Linked DNA regions of Homo sapiens: region 1 is linked to region 2. The links come from fine-mapping of genetic effects on plasma protein levels. A gene starts in region 2. The other region holds a variant in brackets. All regions are shown on one strand. Distances are between the middles of the regions.

Region 1 (12,473 bases), 32 kb before region 2:
TAGAGAGAATGGGGGACAGAGACACAGAGAGAGGGGAACAGAGATCCAGAGAGAGGGGGACAGAGACCCAGAGAGAGGGAGACAGAGAGCCAGGGAGAGAGGGGGACAGAGCCCCAGGGAGAGGGGGTACAGAGGCCCAGAGAGAGGAGGACAGAGACCCAGAGAGAGGAGAATAGAGCCGTAGGCACAGAAAGACTGCCCTTCCACCCCCATAGCGAGCTGGAGACGCTGGTGCACCTCCAGCAGAGACTTGGGCGGCACCTACTTCATCTTGCAGTGGGCGGCAGTGAGCACCCAGCGCTCATTGACCAGGACGCCTCCGCAGTGGAGCTGATTGCCACTGAGCAGGGCCACCTGCCATGGGTGGGAGCCTCTTGCACATGGGGCGCCATCAATAATCTTGTCACCCTGGGCTGGATGGAGACATGGAGGAGCACGTGGGTAGCTAGCATTAGGGGAAGGCTGAGGCTGCACCTCAGGGATTCCCAGAGTCAGAGATGGACAGAGACAGATGAAAATGTGTGGAGAAATACAGAGAAAGCAAGAGATAGGGATAGAGACAGACAGAAGGAGCCCACTCAGAAACCCAGGAGGCGCATCTCATCTGGGGAACCACAGAGAGACCCTGAGCACAGGAGGCAGGGCCTGGAGGGGACAGAGACCCCCTGAGTCAGCAGAAGCAGGAAGAGCGGGGGCTTCAGCCGACAGTCTGGTCCTCCCAGGATGGAAGCTGTTTGAGGAGGGAAGGGTTCTGACTCAGGGACTCCTTGGAGAGGGTCAGTGGGGGCCCTGAGGTGAGGTCAGACTTCCCAGTCCAGCTTTCACCTTCTTCTCCTGCAGTTTCCAAGGCTAAGGATAGCAGTAAGATCTGCAGGGGCAGGAGAAGGGATCTTGCCATGGTGCCCTGCTGAGCCGCTCAGGGGCTGCCAGGCGAGGAAGGGCCTCTCCTGCTGGAGCTGAGAAGGAGAAAGCATTCAGGCCCAGCCCCTCCCCACTCAGACCCAGGGGTCCAGGCCCCAGCCCCTCCCCCCACAGACCCAGGAGTCCAGGCCCCAGCCCCTCCTCCCTCAGACCCAGGGGTCCAGGCCCCAGCCCCTCCTCCCTCAGACCTAGGGGTCCAGAACCCCAGCCCCTCCTCCCTCAGACCCAGAAATTCCTTTCTCTGGCCTCTCCTTCCTTACACTCAGAAGTCCAGACCCCTAACCTCCTCCTCCCTCATACCCAAGAGTCCAGACCCTAGCACCTTCCTCCCTCAGACCCAGGAGTCCAGGCCCCCAGCCCCTCCTCCCTCAGACCTAGGAGTCCAGGCCCCCAGCTCCTCCTCCCTCAGACCTAGGAGTCCAGGTCCAAGTCCCTCCTCCCTCAGGCTCAGGAGTCCAGGCCCCAACCCCTCCTCCCTCAGACCCAGGAGTCCAGGCCCCCAGCCCCGCCTCCCTCAGACCTAGGAGTCCAGGCCCCCAGCTCCTCCTCCCTCAGACCTAGGAGTCCAGGTCCAAGTCCCTCCTCCCTCAGGCTCAGGAGTCCAGGCCCCAACCCCTCCTCCCTCAGACCCAGGAGTCCAGGCCCCAGCCCCTCCTCCCTCAGACCCAGGAGTCCAGGCCCCCAGCTCCTCCTCCCTCAGACCCAGGAGTCCAGGTCCCAGTCCCTCCTCCCTCAGACCTAGGAGTCCAGGTCTCAGTCCCTCCTCCCTCAGGCCCAGGAGTCCAGGCCCCAGCCCCTCCTCCCTCAGACCCAGGAGTCCAGGCCCCAGCCCCTCCTCCCTCAGACCCAGGAGTCCAGGCCCCAGCCCCTCCTCCCTCAGACCCAGGAGTCCAGGCCCCAGCCCCTCCTCCCTCAGACCCAGGAGTCCAGGCCCCAGCCCCTCCTCCCTCAGACCCAGGAGTCCAGGCCCCAGCTCCTCCTCCCTCAGACCTAGGAGTCCAGGTCCCAGCCCCTCCTCCCTCAGACCCAGGAGTCCAGGCCCCCAGCCCCTCCTCCCTCAGACCCAGGAGTCGAGACCCCCAGCCCCTCCTCCCTCAGACCCAGGAGTCCAGGCCCCCAGGCCCTCCTCCCTCAGACCCAGGAGTCCAGAACCCCAGCCCCTCCTCCCTCAGACCCAAAATTCCTGTTCTTCAGATCCCTAGAGACCCAGGAATCTAGGCTCCGATCTTGCCCTTCCCTGTGGAACCCAAACTTCTGACTCTGTAGTTCGTTTTTCCCTAAAAGGCCCCAAATTGCAGACTTCCAGGCCCTCACTGCTCAGGACCGGGAGTCTAGGCTGCAGCCCCTACCTCTCGAGAGCAGAGTCAGGCTTGGAGCCAGCATCACCCTCTCCCCTACAGGTGCACCCTTGATGAAGCCTCTTCTCACCTCGAGAGGATCTGATGTGATCCAAGTTCCGACTTGGGCTGGCACACAGCTGGGCTCCAAAATCTTCATCCCTCTGCTGGGCCGTCCTCTTATATCACCCCCCGCCCCATGCCCGGCCCCAGCGCCCTGGGGTGCAGGCGGAGCCGACTCTGGGACACCCCCGCCTGCATTTGCGGTTCTGGTTATCTGGAACCCTGACGCAGCGAGAGCAATTGGCACCACTGCACTCTCTCTCCACCCTCCCTCCGAAGGACGGGCGGTGCCCAGCTCCTGCGCCCCCGCACATTCTGGTCCCACAGTCCCTCCTGGCTGCTCTCGGGGGAGGGACCCGGTGCGCTGGGTCTGAGGGGCAGGAGCGGGATTCAAGCAGTCGCTGAGCTCAGAGAATAGGCTCTGGCTCGGGTCCTTCTCTGGGGCGGTTTTCTTTCTTTCTTCCCTCCTCCCTCCCTCCCTTCCTTTCTTTTTTTTGGATGGAGTCTCTCTCTATCGCCAGGCTGGAGTGCGGTGGCGCGATCTCGGCTCACTGCCAGCTCCGCCTCCCAGGTTCAAGTGATTCTCCTGCCTCAGCCTCCCGAGTACCTGGGATTACAGGCACGCACCACCACTCCCAGCTAATTTTTGTATTTTTAGTAGAGACCGGGTTTCACTATGTTGGCCAGAATGGTCTCGATCTCCTGACCTCATGATGTGCCCGCCTCGGCCCCGCAAAGTGCTGGGATTACAGGCGTGAGCCACTGCGCCCGGCTTCTGGGGCCATTTTCTTGCCCTCACCCCCTCTCAGGGGTGGCCTAGACCCTACATCCTAATTCTGGCCCGCCTGGGGGAACTTGTCCAAGCTGATCCCAGTCGTGCCTGTAATTACGCCTGAACCCATTCCCAACTCTAACAGAGAGGTGTAAGTTAAAAACAACGCTTTCCCTAACCCCACCCCACTAATATTTGCCATGTTTAGGATCTATGTTCTTATGGTCATTTTAATCATGTTATACATAGATTTCTTTGTATATTATGTATTTATAACAAAAATGTCTGTACTTAACATTATCTAATAGAACATTTTTGAGGGCTTCATTTATTAATTTATAAGCAAATATTTATTTTTCTTTTTTTAACTTTTCAGTTCGGGGGTACATGTGCAGGATGTGCAGGTTTGTTGCGTAGGTGAACGTGCGCCATGGGGGTTTGTTATACAGATTATTTAATCACCCAGGTATTAAGCCTAGTACCCATTAGTTATTTTTTTCTGATCCTCTCCTTCCTCCCACTCTCCACCCTCTCATAAGCCCCAGTGTGTGTACCCAAAGGAATATAAATCATTCTGTTTAAAGACACATGGACACGTACGTTCATTGTAGAACTATTGACAACAGCAAACACAGGGAATCAACCTAAATGTCCATCAGTGATAGACTGGATTAAGAAAATGTGGTACGTATACACAATTGAATACTACGTAGCCATAAAAAAGAACACGATCATGTCCTTTGTAGGGACGTGAATGGAGCTGGAGGCCATTACCCTTACAAACTAAAGCAGGAACAGAAAACCAGATATGGCATGTTCCTACTTACAAGTGGTAGCTAAATGATGAGACTGCATGGACACATAGAGGAGAGAAGAATCTTTCTT[A/ATT]TTTTTTTTTTTTTTTGATGGACTCTGGCTCTGTCACCCAGGCTGGAGTGCAATGGCACGATCTCGGCTCACTGCAACCTCCACTCCCCCGTGTTCAAGTGATTCTCCTGCCTCAGAGTCCTGAGTAGCTGGATTACAGGCGTGCACCACCATGCCCAACTAATTTTTGTATTTTTAGTAGAGATGGGGTTTCACCATGTTGGTCAGGCTGCTCTCCAACTCCTGACCTCAGGTGATCCACCGGCCTCGGCCTCCCAAAGTACTGCGATTATAGGCCTGAGCCACCGCGCCCAGCCAAGGATTTTTGCTAAATGAGTAGATTATAGCTGCTCTTGCCACAGGGGAGGAAAATGGGTAACTATGTGAGATGATGGACATGTTCATTTGTTCAGCTATAGTAATCATTGTCCTATGTATATACATCGCATATGATCATATTGTACACTTTAAATATACACAATAACATTTATTTTTTAAAAAGAGGAAAACTTTTCCCTCTTTGTACATTTAGATTACTTTTCCTTCCTTTATAATGGTTGTGTAATATTCCATACTATACTTGTATCATGATGCATGTCATCTGCCTCAAATTGAAATACACTTGGATAGTTTTAATTATAATAATGCTGAGATGAACTTCTTTGTACATTCATCTTTGTTCATTGTAGTCATTCAAACAGCATCCATTGAGCATCTACTCTGTGCCAGAAACTATTCAGGCTCTTGGAGACACAGCAGTGATAAAACAGAGAAAAATTTCTGTCTTCATAGAGGTTTTTGTTTTGTACTGTCAGGTCAGCACAAAAATAAGCAAATAAAATGTAGAGTTTGTTAGGTGGTTGTAAGCGCTATAAGGGAAAATCCAAGCAAGGAAGAGGGTTGGGGAGTTACTGATTCCCTCTACCCTCGAGGATCCCTGAGGTTATAATATCAGGAAGGTTGGCTGCAAAGACCCCACGTGAAGGTGATATTTGAGCAAAGTCTTGAAGGAGATGGTGGAGGGATCCAGGTGGCTGCTTGAAGGTAGTGAGTTCCAGGCAAAGCGAGCAGGCAGGTGTGTTAGCCAAGGAGCATATCTGAAGTGCCTCAGCAGACAAATCACTGCGACCAATACAGAGTGACCAAAGGAGATGAGGGCAGGTGATGAGGCCAGAAATATAACAGGACTCTGATGACATGCGGTCTGAAAGGTCTTTGGCTTTTATTTTGAGTAAGACAGGAACCATTGTTGGACACACTTCTAAAGTTGGAATTGACCTCAACCTCTAAATTATATCCCCAAAATGGGATTTATTTCTCCACCCTGGACCTAAAACTTATCTCAATCCTGACCCCAACTCAATTCTTTTTTTTGCTTTGTTTTGTTTTGTTTTTGTTTTTGAGATGGAGTTTTGATCTTATTGCCCAGGCTGGAGTGCAGTGGTGCGATCTCAGCTCACTGCAATCTCCGCCTTCCAGGTTCAAGCAATTCTCCTGACTCAGCCTCCCGAGTAGCTGGGATTACAGGCATGTACCATCACACTTGGCTAATTTTTTTTTTTTTTTTTTTTAGTAGAGATGGGGTTTCTCCATGTAGGTCAGGCTGGTCCCTAACTCCCGACCTCAGGTGATCTGCCTTCCTCAGCCTCCCAAAGTGCTGGGATTACATGTGTGAGCCACCACGCCTGGCACCCCAACTCGATTCTACATTTGACCCATAATAGTAGACATTATTGTTGTGTCCCCAGGCATTCACTCCTTCTGCCTTTCTATCAGAGGCTCCATTTTGTTTGGATAATACTTTATCCTCATCAGGACTATAAGCCTCAATGAACCAAGCATTGAAGCCATATTTCGTTTGCTTAATTAGTTGGAAAATGGACATGTGCTGTTCTTCTGGCCAATGAGGAGGAGGGGAAGACCACTGAGGCACTTCTAGGAAAGACTTTCTCATTTTCAAAAAGAGGCACTGAAAGGGGACTTTTTTCTTCTGCTAGATGGTGTCTTTTCTGGATGCAAATTCTGGAACTGTGGCAGCACCCCAGGGACCACAGAGGGAAGTGACCAGAGGACTAAGTCAAAACACTGCAGGTAGCCCACCAGAGAGGTGAGGATCAGCTGGGTCTTTGATGAAGTCACTGAGCTGGTGAATTAACCAACGATGGAGCCTCTTCATGTCATGATTTTTCAGATTCCCCTTCTGGGTTAGAGTTGCTTGGTCCTTGTAGCCAAAATCATCTTTATAAGACCTCAATGTTCAATCAGAATATTGACTCAGATCCCAAATCTGATCCCAAGCCACAAATCCAAATCCGATTCTAACTTGATTCCATATCTTGAAGCCACATAAATCAACAAACTCAACCATGCCTCCAGTCTTAGCTCTCTTCCCAACCCTCATCCCCATATCCCATTTCAGCCCATATCCCATTTTGGCCATTGTTAATGTGAAGATGACCAATTTAATTTTTAGAATAGTCTTTTTTAAAAAAACAAATTAGTAATTTGGATCCTATAGCTGACTACCTCTCATCTAAATTTAATTTTTTCTTAGTTTTTCTTCTATACAGTGGATTTCTTATTTTTTAGGGAAAAGTTGTTGATTGTTTATGCAATAGTTTAACACCAATCCTTTATATATTTAACAAATATGGATTGGGTGGTAGCTATCTACCAATGAGGATACAATGGTGTGCAAACCTAGATAGTGTCTCTTCCCTCAAGGAGCTGATAGTGTCATGTAAAAGAAATACAGTCAATTCATAAACAAGTGTAAAATTACAACTACAAGGCATGCTCTGAAAGACAGGTGCAGGGTATTATGAAGGCACTTCCAGAGGGGTTAGACCCAGGAATTGACTATGAGCTGAGATTTGAAAGAATATTAAACTAGAAGAAATCTTCTAGGAACTAGAAGTAGACTAGAAGAAATCTTCTAGTAACTAGAAATAGTAAACTAGAAGAAAATTTCTTCTGGTAACTAGAAGAAAATTTCTTCTGGTAACTAGAAGAAAATGGGAGGAGAATGGGGAGTGTGTTGTGTAGAGAAAAGAGCATGTGCAAAGGCCCAAGGCATTATTGCTGGAGCTCGGAGGCCAGAGGTTAACTGGGACCAGATAATGACGAGCTCTGTATGTCATTGTGAGTCTTGCTTTATCCTGTGGATAATGAAGAACTATTTGAACCTTAGTCAGAGAAATAACATAACAAGATTTGTATTTTCAAAACATCAACCTAGCTACTGTATGAAGGCTGGATTTGGGTGGGATGTGAAGATACTGGGCAACCATGGGGGAAGTCATTGTTGTTGTCTAGATGAGGGAAGATGGTGACTTGGATACAGGTGGTTGAAAGGTGGAGACGATGTTAAGTACATGGGTTCAAAATGCACTTAGGAGAGAGAATCAACAAGCCTTGGTGATGGATTGAATGAAGGTTGTGTTGAGGTAGTGGAAGATGTTAAGATTTCAAAGTCTGTTGCTCGATGGACAGTGATGCCATTCATTGAGAAGACATGGTAGATGTGGTCAAATGGTTCTGATATGACAAGAAAAGACCTCAGACCCTGACTTCAAGCAGAACCCTAAATCCAACCTTTACTTTGACACAACTCCCAACACGTATTTTGACATAAGCCCCAGCCTTTTTGTTTGTTTCAATAGCTTTCGGGGTACAAGTGGCTTTTGGTTACATGGATGTATCGTATAGCAGTGAAGTCTGAGATTTTAGTGCACCCATCACCCAAGTAGTGTATATTGTACCCAATATTTATAGTGTTTTATCCCTTATCCTCTTCATACCCTCCCCCTTCTGAGTCTCCAGTGTCCATTATACCACTTGGTACCCACTGCTTAGCTCCCACTTACACATGAGAACGTAAGGCATTTGGTTTTCCATTCCTGAGTTACTTCACTTAGAATAATGGCTTCCAACTCCATCCAAGTTGCTTCAAAAGACATTATTTGATTCTTTCTATGGTTGAGTAGTATTCCGTGGTGCATACACATCACATTTTCTTTATCCACTCATCAGTTGATGGGCACTTACTTTGGTTCCATATCTTTGCAATTGTGAATTGTACTGCGATAAACATACGTGTGTATGTGTCTTTTTGATATAGTGACTTCTTTTCCTTTGGGTAGATACCCAGTAGTGGGATTGCTGGATTGAATTGTAGATCTACTTTTAGTTCTTTGAGAAATCACCATACTGTTTTCCACAGAGGTTGTACTACTTTACATTCCCACCAGCAGTGTATAAGTGTTCCCTTTTCATCACATCCATGCCAACATCTATTGTTTTTTTGACTCTTTAGTAAGCCCCAGTCTTAACCCCAAACCTTAATCTGTACCCAATCCTGAACCTCAAATTCTGCTTTATCCTTGATGAACCCCAATTTGTATCTCAACCAATAACCTAAATCTTGACTGAGTTCTTGACTCCAAATATCAACTCAGGCTAGGATCCAGACCTCAATCAAACTTAACCCTCCTGACCCTTGACCTTAACCCTGAACCATTAGCCATAAGCCAAACTCAACCTTGACCTGAGCAGTGAATGTCACCATAGCCTGAGTATCAAGCCTGCCACGGGATAATTCAGACATTAGTCTCCATTCCCATCATATTCTAGGAAGCCCACATTCATATCCTCCCCCATGAACCCATTCCCTCACATCCAACACCAATTCTAACACTCTCACCCCATCCCACCCCTATTCTCATCCTCAACCCAATTGCTACCTAAAATCCCATTCTCATTTCCATCCCCAATTCTTTTCCCAGTTCCATTTTTATTTCTCCAGCTCACCACACAACTTTGACTCTTCATTTTACAAAAACTCTAAAATAAAGTCTGCCAACGAATATCTTGCTAACATTGATGCTATACTAACTCAACTCAAGCCGAGTCCCAAAATCTTCTGAGACATTTACTGTCATCGAATCCAAAATCAGATCCCCGAACTTGGACATCTAGCCCTGCCCATTCCACAGCAGCAATCTGGTCGTGAAGGGTGTCAACATTCCTGACCTGGGCTCCCAAATCAAGGAGAAGCAGACTCCAGCCCAGTTGACCTCACAGCTCCATGATTCAGCAATCTGTATCTTTCCTTCCTGGCTTCTCAAAGACAGAAATGGTAGCAAGACTTCCAGTGTATTATCTACTCCCTGCATCTTCATCCTTAGATTCTCTCCTCCCTCAGTCCTCTGCCTCCTTAGTATCTGTTAGAAAGAGGAAGGAGCCAGGCTACTCTAGAGCCCTGTTATTCACTCCTAAGTCACCAAAACGTCTATCCTCTGCTTTTCATCATCTATCATTCTGTAAATTATATTCCTAATTATTTAACCTGATTTTGTTGCCAAACACTGGTCATCACAAGCAGAGGAAATGTGTGTGGGGTTCTTTTTTTTTTTCCAGCACCCCGCCCAGACCGGAGAACACAGGAGGTACTTAAATAAATACTAGTCTGCAAACTTCTGGCATCCACAGGTCCACAGGCCTTAGATTCAGTCCTGCCTTGATCCCTGAGCTGTTCCACCATGCAGTGTGACAGAAAGAACTAGAAAGAACTTGGACTTTCAACCCAGCTTTGAATCCTGGTTGCCCACCCTGTGACTTCGGGTAAGTGACTTCATTTTTCTGAGTCAGACTTTGCCCCTCCCCAAAGTGGAGGAGAGCAAAACCTATTTACCGAGGCAAATGAGAGGATTAAATAAAATTATGAATGGAAAATTGATGGGCACATAACAGCCAGTGAATTAACATGAGTTCCCTCAGCCCATCACCCACGGAATGAAGAAGCAGCTCCCATTTTCCCCCCTACATTTAGTGTGGTGTGTCTGTATTCCTCACATTGGTCCAGGTGAGGATTGTCATCCCCATTTTACCTTTATTTTTTGCCGCCTGCCCCATCATCCCCATTTTATAGATGAGAAAATGGAGGTTTAAAAAAGGCTAGATCACTTGAGCAAAGTCACAGAGCTGAGGAGTCAGAAGTGTCAGAATTCAGCCAGGCGTGGTGGCTAAAGCCTGTAATCCCAACACTTTGGGAGGCCGAAGTGGATGGATCACTTGAGGTCAGGAGTTCGAGACCAGCCTGGCAAACATGGTGAAACCCCATCTCTACTAAAAATACAAAAAATTAGTCGGATGTGGTGGCATGTGCCTATACTCCCAGCTACTCAGGAGGCTGAGACAGGAGAATCACTTAAGCCAGTAAGCAGAGGTTGCAGTGAGCCGAGGTTGCACCACTGCACTCCAGCCTGGGTGACAGGGCAAGACTCCATCTCAGGAAAAAAAAAAAAAAAAAAGCCAGAATTTGAACATTGGGATTCAAAGGCCTATGGTATCACTACTGCACAAATCCATACTCTGAGAAGGAAATTTCCTTGTTACATCCACATGTACCCTCTGAGTCTCATTTGGTTCAAAACAGACTTGGATCGCCCTCAGCCTATTAATGATGCATACCCCCATGTCAGAGAGAGGCCCATATCCAGGCCCCCTGTGCCCTTTGCATTTAGTCCTGGCACCTGTTGCTAAGTGTCATCCAGACACCCAGCCCCATACCTCCATCGTCCTCAGACCTATGTCCTGAACCTTTGTTAAATGACTCATCTTCCACCTTATGATCACACCTGAGAACTGGCATCTGATAATCTTGCCAGCTATGCCTTTCCCTGAGGGATTCTGAACACTGTGACCCTCGTACCTCCTGACTCAGCCCATGGGTTCTGATGGCCCATTGTTTCATACTTCCTGGATTCTCTTCCTCCTTATTTCTTTCTTTCTTTCTTTTTTTTTTTTTTTTTTTTTTTTTTTTTTTTTTGAGACAGAGTCTCACTCTGTCACCCAGGCTGGAGTTCAGTGGTGCGACCTCAGCTCACTGCAACCTCCACCTTCCGGCAGAACCCCATTTCTTTTGGGGGAGATGCTGCCTTATTTCTTATAGTTCTGGTGAAACTGTCAATCGTAGTTCTCCAACTCCACCCACCCACTGAGGCGGAGAAATGACCCAGGCCAAGTCAACAAGATCAGTGTTTTCTCTCTGGCAACAATGATAGATTCAAGGGGTGGGCCCAGTTCAAACTGGACCAATTAGAGTTCCTCCCTGGGATTAATATCAAGATGCCAGGAGAAAGGAGATTTTTGTTTCTGTTAGTAGCTGCTATGTTCCCTCCATGCCCCTCCTTAGTACCTAAGATTGAGTAAATCAATCCCCAAGTCTTTTCAGGCTTATGTTCCACTGGAGACATTAAAGTATCTCCTGGACCAGCCTAGGCAACATGGTAGAGTCCTAGCTCTACTGAAAAAAAAAAAAAAATGGCTGGGCGTGGTGGCACATGCCTGTGGTCCCAGCTACTCAGGAGGCTGAGGTGGGAGGATGGCTGAAACCCAGGAGGTAGAAACTGCCTTAAGCATTGTTTGTGCAATGCTCACTGTACTGTAACCTGGGTGACAGAGTAAGACCTTGTCTCAAAAAGGAAAAAAATCTCCTTGGCATTGGATGATACTAAGAAAGTATCAACTGTGTAAGGTGTGATAATGTAAGTTGGTTATGTTTAAAACGAGTCTCTTTTGGAACAAGGATTGGCAAATTTTTAAAATAAAGGGCCAGAGAGTAAATATTTTAGCTTATGTGGACCAAGAGAGAAAAATGGAAGATATTATGTAGATATTTAATAGCAGGAAAGAAAATAAAATTTCACAATTTTTAATTGATGAAATTCAAAATGTAGTAATGATAATTTAGTACAAATTTTTTGTTGCTATTCCTTATCAAGCTCACGCCTGTAATCCCAGCACTTTTGGAGGTGGAGGCAGGCAGATCACTTGAGGTCGGGAGTTCAAGACCAGCCTGACCAACATAGAGAAACCTTGTCTCTACTGAAAATACAAAAAATTTTAGCCGGGCGTGATGGTGCATGCTTGTAATCCCAGCTACTCAGGAGACTGAAGCAGGAGAATTGCTTGAGCCAGGGAGGCGGAGGTTGCGGTGAGCCGAGATCACGCCATTGCACTCCAGCCTGGGCAACAAGAGCGAAACTCCATCTCAAAAAAAAAAAAAAAAAAAAAAAATTTAGCTCAGGAGATTTGGTCCAACAGCTGTAATTTGCCATCCCCTGTTTTAAAAATGCATAATAAAATATTTAAGAATGAGATGTTGTGGTGACTGAGATTGCTTCAAAATATTCTGGCATTAGGGAAGTGTGTGGTGGGAGTATAGGTGAAACAATAATTGGTTTTGCATTAACTTTTTTTTTGAGATAGGGTCTCACTCTGTTACCCAGGCTGGAGTGCAGTGGTACAATCATAGCTCATTGCAGTCTCAACCTCTCAGGCTCAAGTGATCCTCCCACCTCAGCCTCCTGAGTAGCTGGGACCACAGACGCATGCCACCATGCCCAGCTAATTTTTTAATCTTTTGTAGAGACCAGTCTCCCTATGTTGCCCAGACTGGTCTTGAATGCCTGGGCTCAAGCAATCCTCGTGCCTCGGCCTTTCAAAGTGCTGGG
Region 2 (9,123 bases):
TTCAGCCGACTGGGGAGGAAGAGGATGGACGATGGAGCCTCTGGGCATCTGGATCAGCAGGAGCATAACATCTGGATCAGCTGGAGCGTAGCATCTGGATCAGTTGGAGCGTATGACTTTATTGATCCAGGACATGTATTTGCAGATCTGGGTGTAGACAGCTGGATGCTGGGCAGAGCCACAGGGGTAAACACCCCACGAGAGGATGCCTTGGAGGGTCTCGTCACAGACCAGGGGGCCTCCAGAGTCACTCTGGGGGTGGCAGGAAGGAGAGATCAAATAAATGTGCCAACGTGAGAGCTGTCACTTTGGGATCTGGGGCAGTGGTGGGGAAGGAAGGAGTTGGGTTGGGATAAAGACGAGGATGGGATGGGGTTGGAATTAGGTATGAGCTGGAAGGTAGGAATGGAGGTGGACTTCAGGTTATGGGAGGTTGGGCTGGGGGATGAGAATGAAGGCACAGTGAGACTGGGGTTGGGATTGTAGTTCATGGAAGGTGAGGGGATGAAAATGGGCTTGGAGATGGGAATGGGGTGGGGTTGGGATGGAAATGGGATTGAGGATAGGGATGAGGAGGGGGTTAGGTCTGGGTAAGAGTTGGGGTCAAGGATGGGTTTGGGAATGGAGTTGGGGATCGGGCACAGGGTCTGCTCTTTTCCCATAACCTCCCTGTCCTCCCTCCCAGGAGTCAGAGACTCTCCCTGTTCAGACCCTACCTGGCAAGGGTCCTGGCCCCGGTCCAGTCCAGCACATATCATGTTGTTGGTGACCACGCCAGGGTAGAAGACCTCACACTCTTTAGGGCTCAGGATAGTGATGCTGGAGCAGGTCAGGCCCTTGTTGTACTTCACTGAAGGGAGAATATGCCAGTAATCCCTGGGTCCAGCCCCCAATCCTTGGGGAGCCAGGAGTCCAGATACAAGACCGTTTCTATCCTAAGCCCCAGCCCCTCCTCCTTCAGACTCAAGAATCCTGGCCCCAGCCCCTCCCCACTTAGACCCAGGAGTCCAGGCCCCCAGCCCCTCCTCCCCTCAGACTCACAGACCCAGGCATCTAGGACCCCAGCCCGTCCTCCCTCAGATCCAGGAATCCAGTCCCCAGCCCATCCTTCCTCAGACCCAGGGGTTCAGGCCCTCAGCCCCCTCCTCCTGAGGTTCCGGCCTCAGAGCCCCAGCTCTTGCCTCTCCGGGCGGCCGTGGTGCCCCAGCCAGCAACCTGGCACTGGTCTCCGGGCTGAGCACAGCGGTAGGGAAGCTGCAGGGCCCGGACGCGGGGCCCCAGCACTACGGGCCTGGCCAGCTTCAGCAACATGAGATCGTGCTCATCCGTTCGCCTTGGCAGGATGGGGCCTGAGCCCTGGTGGTACTTGGGATGGACAACAGAGCGAGTGGTCCGGCGGAGCTGCTCTCCCTGAAGAAGCAGCAGGTGGTCATCCCCTACTCGAGCCCACAGTGGCCTGGGGGAAGGAAGAGGCATGTGAAGGCAAACCCTTCATAGGGACTGGGAAAGCAGGTGGGCAGTGACGCAGGGCCTGGAGATAGGAAGAGTCTGAGGGAAGAGGGCCTTGTGGGAGAAGGGGACCTCAGTGGACATGGGGAGGAGGAATCAGTTGTTTGAGCTCTGAGGATCTGTAGGAATTGAGGAGGGCTGGGGGCCTGGACACCTAGGTAAGCCTTCCACATTTTCTTTTCTCTTTTTCTTTTCTTTGTTGAAACAGAGTTTCGCTCTTGTCACCCAGGCTAGAATGCAATGGCGCAATCTCGGCTCACTGCAACCTCCACCTCCCAGGTTCAAGCAGTTCTCCTGCCTCAGCCTCCTTCCTGAGTAGCTGGGATTACAGGCACCCACCACCACACCCAGCCTTTTTTTTTTTTTAATTTTTTTAAAATTTTTTATTTTTTATTTTATTTTATTTTTAGTTGAGAAGTGGTTTCACCATGTTGGCCAGGCTGGTCTTGAACTCCTGACCTCAGGTGATCCACCCGCCTTGGCCTCCCAAAGTGCTGGGATTACAGGCGTGAGCCACCGAGCCCAGCCCAACTCCACATTTTCTCTGTGGTAATACCCAACCCTTCCTCCTTCAACGGGGACTCACGAAGTGAACCTTTTCCTTTAGTTCTAAATTCCTGACCACACCGGACCCTGGCTTCTATCCGTTGCAGGCAACCACCTCCTCCTAGAGCTCAAGGAGAATCAGCGGGAGAGGAGTGACGGGCCCAGAAATGCGGAAAAGGACCACACCGCCCCCTGGCGGCCACAGCGCAAGCCCGGTCTCTCCTCCTGCTGGAAGGACACCGGGGACCGCACCTCCAGCTGTGGGAGTTCCGAGAGACCCCGCCCTGCCCGCTCCTCCCTGGAGGCCGCCTCCACAGCCCCCCGTGGCGTCCTCGGGGATGGATCTCCTCCTACTTGTTTCCGCAGTGCGCGGCCGTCAGCACCCAACTCTGGTCCACCAGGACACCCGCGCAGTGGAACGAGAGGCCGTTGAAGAGCGAGACCTGCCAGGGCTGCGAGCCGCGCGCGCACGGGGAGCCATAGGCTTCGGGGTCCAAGCGCGTGTCGTTTTGGGGGAGCAGCGCCGCCTCTGCGGCTGGAGAAAGAAAGGGGACGGAATCAAAGCACGGAGGGCAGGGTCTGGGTTTGGGGTTGGAGCTGGGCTGTGGCACTGGACTGCGTTCGGGGACGGGGGACGCAGCCAGAACGCGAGGGTGGTAGGGAAATATTGGGGGTTTCGCGTGCACCGAAGGGAATGGGAGGAGAAGAAGCGCGTGAAAGTGGAAGGAAGCTGGGATAGGGTAGCGTGGAGTAATGAGACAGAATAGGGTGGGTCTGGAGGGCAGGGACTGAACGCAGCGCGCCTGGAGAGCTGGCTAGAACGTCGCTGGTCGATAGAGGGGCGGGGATTGAACGCGGCGGGGAGGTAAGGGTGCGGGGATAGAACTCGGGGATCGGGGAGAGGAAGGGGTGTGAATAACAAAACGGGATTGAAAACCAGGAGAGGGGTGGGGCGCAGTGGTTTACGCCTGTAATCCCAGCACTTTGGGAAGCCGAGGCGGTTGGACCGCTTGAGCTCGGGAATTCAAGACCAGCCCGGGCAACACAGCAAGACCCAGTCTCTACAAAAACAAACAAACAACAACAACAACAACAAAAAAGTAGTCGCGGAGGCATGCGCCTGTAGTCACAGCTACCTGGGAGGCTGAGGTGGGAGGATCGCTTGAGCCCAGGAGGTGGAGGTTGCAATGAGCCGAGATTGGGCCACTGCACTCCAGTCTGGGCGACAGAGTGAGACCCTGTCTCAAAAAAAAAAAAAAAAAAAAAAAAAGCCGGATGTGGTGGTGCATGCCTGTGGTACCAGCTACTCTGGAGGCTGAGTATCGCTTGAGCCCAGGAGGTCGAGGCTGCAGTGAGCTCTGATTGGGCCACTGTACTCCAGCCACGGAGACAGAGCACTGCCCTGTCTCAAAAAAAAAAAAAAAAAAAAAAGAAGGAAAGAAAAAGAGAGAGAAAGAAAAAAACAAGAAAGAAAGAAGAAAAAATAAGAGAGAAAGTAAAACAAGAAAGAAGAAACAAACGAAAGGAAGGAAGGAAAGGAAGGAAGGAAAAGAAGAACGAAAGAAAGAAAAGAAAGAAAGAAAAAGAAAAAAGAGAGAGAAAGGGAAAGAGGAAGAAAAAAAGTGAGGGGAGAGGGCAAAAAGCGGTAAGGCAAGACTCAGGATAAAACACGGTGGTGTGGCCGGGAGCGGTGGCTCACGCTTGTAATCCCAGCACTTTGGGAGGCCGAGGCAGGCGGATCACGAGGCCAGGAGATCGAGACCACGGTGAAATCCCATCTCTACTAAAAATACAAAAAACTAGCCGGGCTTGGTGGCGGGCGCCTGTAGTCCCAGCTACTCGGGAGGCTGAGGCAGGAGAATGGTGTGAACCCGGGAGGCGGAGCTTGCAGTGAGCCGAGATCGCGTCACTGCACTCCAGCCTGGGCGACAGAGCGAGACTCCGTCTCAAACAAACAAACAAACAAAACAAAACACGGTAGTGTAAAATGGAGCGGGGCCGGGATGGGGCGGCGTAAGAGGAGGAGAAAGAACGCGGCGAAGAGTCCACGGAAGAGCGAGGATCCGGGTGGCAGAAATCGGACAGGGCCTGAGTGGGGCGGGTCACCCAGGGGCCGAGCCAGAAGAAGGGCCCAGCTGACTTGGGGGCGGGCCGTGCTCCGGAGCGCTGGGTGGGTGCTGGGGTCTCGGGGGAGGAGAGGTGCGCGGGGCTTGGTGACGGGAACACATTCTCCTCCCGCCCGTGCCTCCCACCGGCGCCTCTCCCCGCCCCCTGCCCCCGACCTTACCCCAGAGTTGCGCCATCAGCAGCGGCAGCAGCTTCGCCAGAGCCCGGGCGCCAGAGGCGGCGGAGAGGTGGAGGTGCGGAGCTCTCATGGCCAGGATCTGCTGGGGTGTGTGCAGGGGCGGGTTAAAACAGATGCTCCGTTAGAGACCCCCACCTCGCCGCGCTCATCCGCCCAGCCTGGGCCACCCCAGCCCGCAAGCACCCTTTTGACCTGCAGCCGATAACCCCAGGGGCTGGCAGACGGGAGATTCGGGCTGGAACAGCGGTAATGGGCACAATTACCCTAATGACGCCCCTCGCGGCATCTTCCCGTCCTCCCTGTGCCCGAGTGGAGCGCTCTCCGCGCCCCAGCTACCCTGGCTGCAGCCACGCCGCGCCCGAGGTTTCCCCCTCCTTCACGCGCGGGGTGGGGATCCGAGGCTCGGAGCCAGTGGGAGCCTCTTTCTCAACCTCACAGCGGGGGGACTTCCGCGTCCCGCAGGTGGAGAAACCGAGGCTCTAAGCCGGCTCCTGCCTGTGGCCCGGGGGTCCCCACCCATCCTCTCGCAATCCACCCCAACCCGGGTGGGGTGCAGGTAGCTTCACCTGGGAGTCGCCGATAGGAAGGAGGGAGGGGACCCAGACGTGCCTCTGCCCTGCCTGTGGTCTGCCGCTGGTATCCTCTGCCCAGGGACCCCTGGCGGGACCTTCCCTTTTAACCCCAAGGAGTCCGGAAGCTTCTCCACCCTCCCCTACCCCCACCCCCGGGCTCCCTCCCTTTCCCTCTGTCTAATTGTACCGTGGGTGAGGCTGGCACTCCTGGGTCCCAGATTCCTGCTCTGGGAGGGGCCCTGGAATACAGGCTTCTCCCAGTGCCCGAAACGCCCCCTTTTCATCCCTTTTGGAACTGGCTTCCGTGGGGATTCTCCGGGTCCCGGTGCCAAGAAGGCTTCCCAGGCGCGGGGAGAGGGTTCACGTCCCCAGCAAGGCTAGGGGTGGCAGGATGAGAGGCCACTGAGCAAGAGGAAATCAATGGGAAGTGCATACCTAGAGTGACAATGTGAGAAGCCAGACTGTGGAAGAGGAAGGAGGAAGGCCTAGAGATAAAGCAGGTTGAGTAGGAGGGACAGAGGCTGGCTTGAAAAGGGAGATTGTAACAAACCAAGGCTAAAAGAGCCAGAGAGAGAGAGAGAGAGAGAGAGAGAGAGAGAGAGAGGGAGGGAGGGAGGCGCCGAGGCTAAGAGAAACAGAAACAAGGAAAAAGGGAAACCCACGCCCACTCTGTGGCCGTGAGTGAGCTCTGTGTGTGTCCCAGTGACTAGCCCATGTGCGTGTTGGGGGGGGCTGTGGCTCTGCCTCATACCCATGTGTGGCCATCTCACACCCTCCCTGCCATCTGTGTGCCACCAGGTGACACACAGGCCCCTGAATCATAGGAGGTCAAAGCTGTGAGGGGCATCGGCATCACCTCAGCCAACTCCCTCATCTCAGGTGAGGAGTGAGAGGCTCAGAGAGGGCAGAGACTCACAGGAGGTCACACAGCAAGTCCACTTGACAACCAGAAGGCCCTGGTTCCACTCTGGGCTCCTATTGCTCATGCCAGCCACTTCTGCGAGGTGAACAGACCATCCCAAAAGATCCTGAGCTGGCCGGGCGCGGTGGCTCACGCCTGTAATCCCAGCACTTTGGGAGGCCAAGGGGGGGCGGATCACGAGGTCAGGAGTTCGAGACCAGCCTGGCCAACATAGTGAAACCCCATCTCTACTAAAAAGACACAAAAATTAGCTGGGGATGTTGGCACAGGCCTGTAGTCCCAGCTACTAGGGAGGCTGAGGCAGGAGAATTGCTTGAACCTGGGAGGCAGAAGTTGCAGTGAGCCGAGATCACGCCACTGCACTCCAGCCTGGGTGACAGAGCAAGACTCTGTCGCAAAGAAAAAAAAAAAAAAAGATCCTGAGTTCTGGATTCTCTCCGTGGGACATCCTCTTCAGAGGCCATCTAACTCAGTGCTGCTCAGCTGAACTTTCTGCAGTGATGTTTTATATGCACTAGCTAATCCAGCCACCACCAGTCACATGTGGCTATCCAGCCTTGGAGATATAACAAGTGAGACAGAGGAGTTACATTTCTGGCTTTATGTAATTTTAATTGGAAGAGCCAGCTGCGGTTAGTGGCTACCATATTGGCCAGCAGAGGTCTCCACTATCTAATTACCTATCATGGAAGTTGGAGAAAAACAATAAGCTCCTTTGGTTAGGTCTTAGTATGTGCAGGCTAACTGACTTCTTTACTTACTGTGTTATACTTTTGCATGCAGCATTTTACAGGAAAGGAAACAAACAGAGCCTTACTCCAGGAACATCACTTGGTAATTAAGAGATCGCCTTGCTTCAGATCCTTGCTCTCCTAGCCACGTGACTGTGAGCAAGTGACTTTGCTTCTCTGTGTCTGTTTCTTCAACTATAAAATAGGTATGAAAACAGTACCGACCTCACAGGGTTTTGTGAGGATTAAGTTGATACATTTGAAAGTGCTTGGAGGCCAGGCACAGCGACTCATGCCTGTAATCTCACCACTTTTGGAGGCTGAGGAGGACAGACTGCTTGAGCCCAGGAGTTTGAGACTAGCCGGGGCAACATACTGAGACCTCTGTCTCTACGAAAAATACAAAAATTAGCTGGGCTTCGTGGCATGTGCCTGTAGTCCCAGCTACTCTGGAGGCTGAGGGAGGACAATCACTTGACCCCAGGAAATTGAGATTGCCGTGAGCTGTGATTGTTACTGCACTCCAGCCTGGGCAACAGAGCAAGACTGTCTCCTAAATAGATTAATTAATTTAATTTCTTTTAATTAATAAATGAAAGCCGGGCGGGCGCGGTGGCTCACGTCTGTAATCCCAGGAGTTTGGGAGGCCAAGGAGGGCAGATCATCTGAGGTCAGGAGTTCGAGACCAGCCTGGCCAACATGGTGAAGCCCCATCTCTACTAAAAAATACAAAAATTAGCCGGATGTGGTGGTAGGCACCTGTAATCCCAGCTATTCAGGAGGCTGAGGCAGGAGAATTGCTTGAACCCAGGAGGTGGAGGTTGCAGTGAGCAGAGATAGCACCACTGTACTCCAGCCTGGGTGACAGAGCGAGACTCTGTCAAAAAATAAAATAAAATAAAAGCCATTGGATCAGGGTCTAGCACATAGTAAGCACTCAGTAGATTCACTCATTTAGCAAATATTTATTGAAACCTTGATATATGGCCAGGAGCTGTCTTTGGGGCTGGGGATACAACAGAGAACAAACCAGGTGTTGTCATTCCCAGAGTCACAATATTTCAAGGCAGAATTTGAATCCAGGTCTCACTGATTTCGAACCCCAGGTTGATTATTAAGTGACAGCATCTCCTGTAGTCCAGGAGGCCCAAAGAATGTTCGTAGAGGGTCTTGGCTTAGGGTTTCTTATTAACAGAGTGAACAGGAACCAAACACCAAGTGGAAATGGAGGGTGATGGGCTGTGGTGGGTGGGTCCAGTCTAATTGTTCTTCATCGTCTCCTGGATCCAGTCCACATATTTGCAGACTTTCGTGTAGACACCAGGCTTTCGGGTGATCGCACACGGATCCTGGCCCCAGGAGATAATGCCTTGAAGAGACTGGTTACAGACCAGAGGGCCCCCGGAGTCACCCTGGGCACGGGGAGAGAGAATGTCGGTCAGAGAAAGCGTTGAGCATGGTGTTAGCCAGGGAGGAGGTGGGGACGGTGCTTAGGAGTGGGGCCGAGACAGGATGGGTAGGCACTGGGAAAGGTGATAGGTTTAGCGATAAAGCTGGGATTATGGGTGGGATAAAGGATGGGGTTAGGCTCAAAAACGAGTTTGGGGATGGTTGGAGCTGGAAATGGTGTGGAAACGGGGATGGAGCTGAAGTTTGTGCTGAGGTCAGAAACGGGAACAGGGGAAGAGATGGATTGGGAGTTGCAGGGGTCGGCGGGTTGAGGTTGGGGATGAAATTGTGGATGTCGGTAAAGATGTCATTGAAGCTGGGGATGGGGATGGGGCTGTGGTTGGAGACCACACTGACCTGGCAGGAGTCCTTGCCCCCTTCCTGCACGCTGGCACACACCATGGTGTCTGTGATGTTGCCGGGGTAGGCGTTCTCACACTTCTGGTGCTCAATGATGGTGATGTTGGCGCATCGCAAGGTGTGAGGCAGGCGTACTGTGGAAACAGCGTGAGGGGCTGTGGGAATGAGCCCCCTGCCACCTCCCCTAATGCAGTGCTTGCTGTGATCCCGCCCCTGGGGGAATCCCTGTCCTTAGACGCAGCCAACTCACCTCTCTTCTTGTAACAATAGCAACAGCAATGCTATCCAGCTTTTTTTTTTTTTTTTTCGAGACAGAGTCTTGCTCTGTTGCCCAGGCTGGAGTGCAGTGGCGTGATCTTGGCTCACTGCAACCTCCGTCTCCCAAGTTTAAGCGATTCTCCTGCCTCAACCTCCCGAGTAGCTGGGATTACAGGCGCACACAACCACGCCCAACTAATTTTCACATTTTTAGTAGAGATGGGATTTCACCACGTTGGCCAGGCTGGTATCAAAGTCCTGACCTCAGGTGATCTTCCCACCTCGGCCTCCCAAAGTGCTGGGATTACAGGCGTGAGCCACGGTGCCCAGCCTGCTATCCAATAAATGATTTATGTCAGTTGCTTGATATACATTATCTCTAATCCAATCCTGACAGGTGGGTATAATCATTCTCATTTTATAGAGAAGAAAATCAAGATTCAGAGAGGTGAAGCTGCTTGCCTAAGGTCT

Direction of the effects. Alleles are on the strand shown, and positions count from the first base shown. The strength of an association depends on the size of the effect and on how common the allele is.
With allele A in place of ATT in region 1, the plasma level of the protein whose gene starts at base 5,009 in region 2 is lower (weak association).

The links. PIP is the posterior inclusion probability: the model's chance that the variant is causal. The UK Biobank Pharma Proteomics Project read protein levels with antibody pairs (Olink). The fine-mapping took linkage between variants from a reference panel, not from the people measured, so its PIPs are less certain.
Region 1: its variant is fine-mapped to the plasma level of the KLK10 protein (UK Biobank, PIP above 0.99).

Annotation. Positions count from the first base shown.
Region 1 is chr19:50,981,502-50,993,974 of GRCh38, forward strand. KLK7 (kallikrein related peptidase 7) reads right to left here and starts at 2,416. Exons shown (of 6, transcript NM_005046.4): 1 at 2,350-2,416; 2 at 826-956; 3 at 266-413. The coding sequence starts at 898. RefSeq lists an enhancer at 2,151-2,705 and a silencer at 8,958-9,158. The variant A/ATT (reference allele first, on the strand shown) is at 3,979.
Region 2 is chr19:51,014,701-51,023,823 of GRCh38, forward strand. KLK10 (kallikrein related peptidase 10) reads right to left here and starts at 5,009. Exons shown (of 6, transcript NM_145888.3): 1 at 4,927-5,009; 2 at 4,343-4,439; 3 at 2,410-2,590; 4 at 1,182-1,456; 5 at 717-850; 6 at 1-252. The coding sequence starts at 4,430. The coding sequence ends at 100. It overlaps KLK11 (kallikrein related peptidase 11), which reads right to left. Exons shown (of 6, transcript NM_001136032.3): 5 at 8,392-8,528; 6 at 7,536-7,997. The coding sequence ends at 7,845.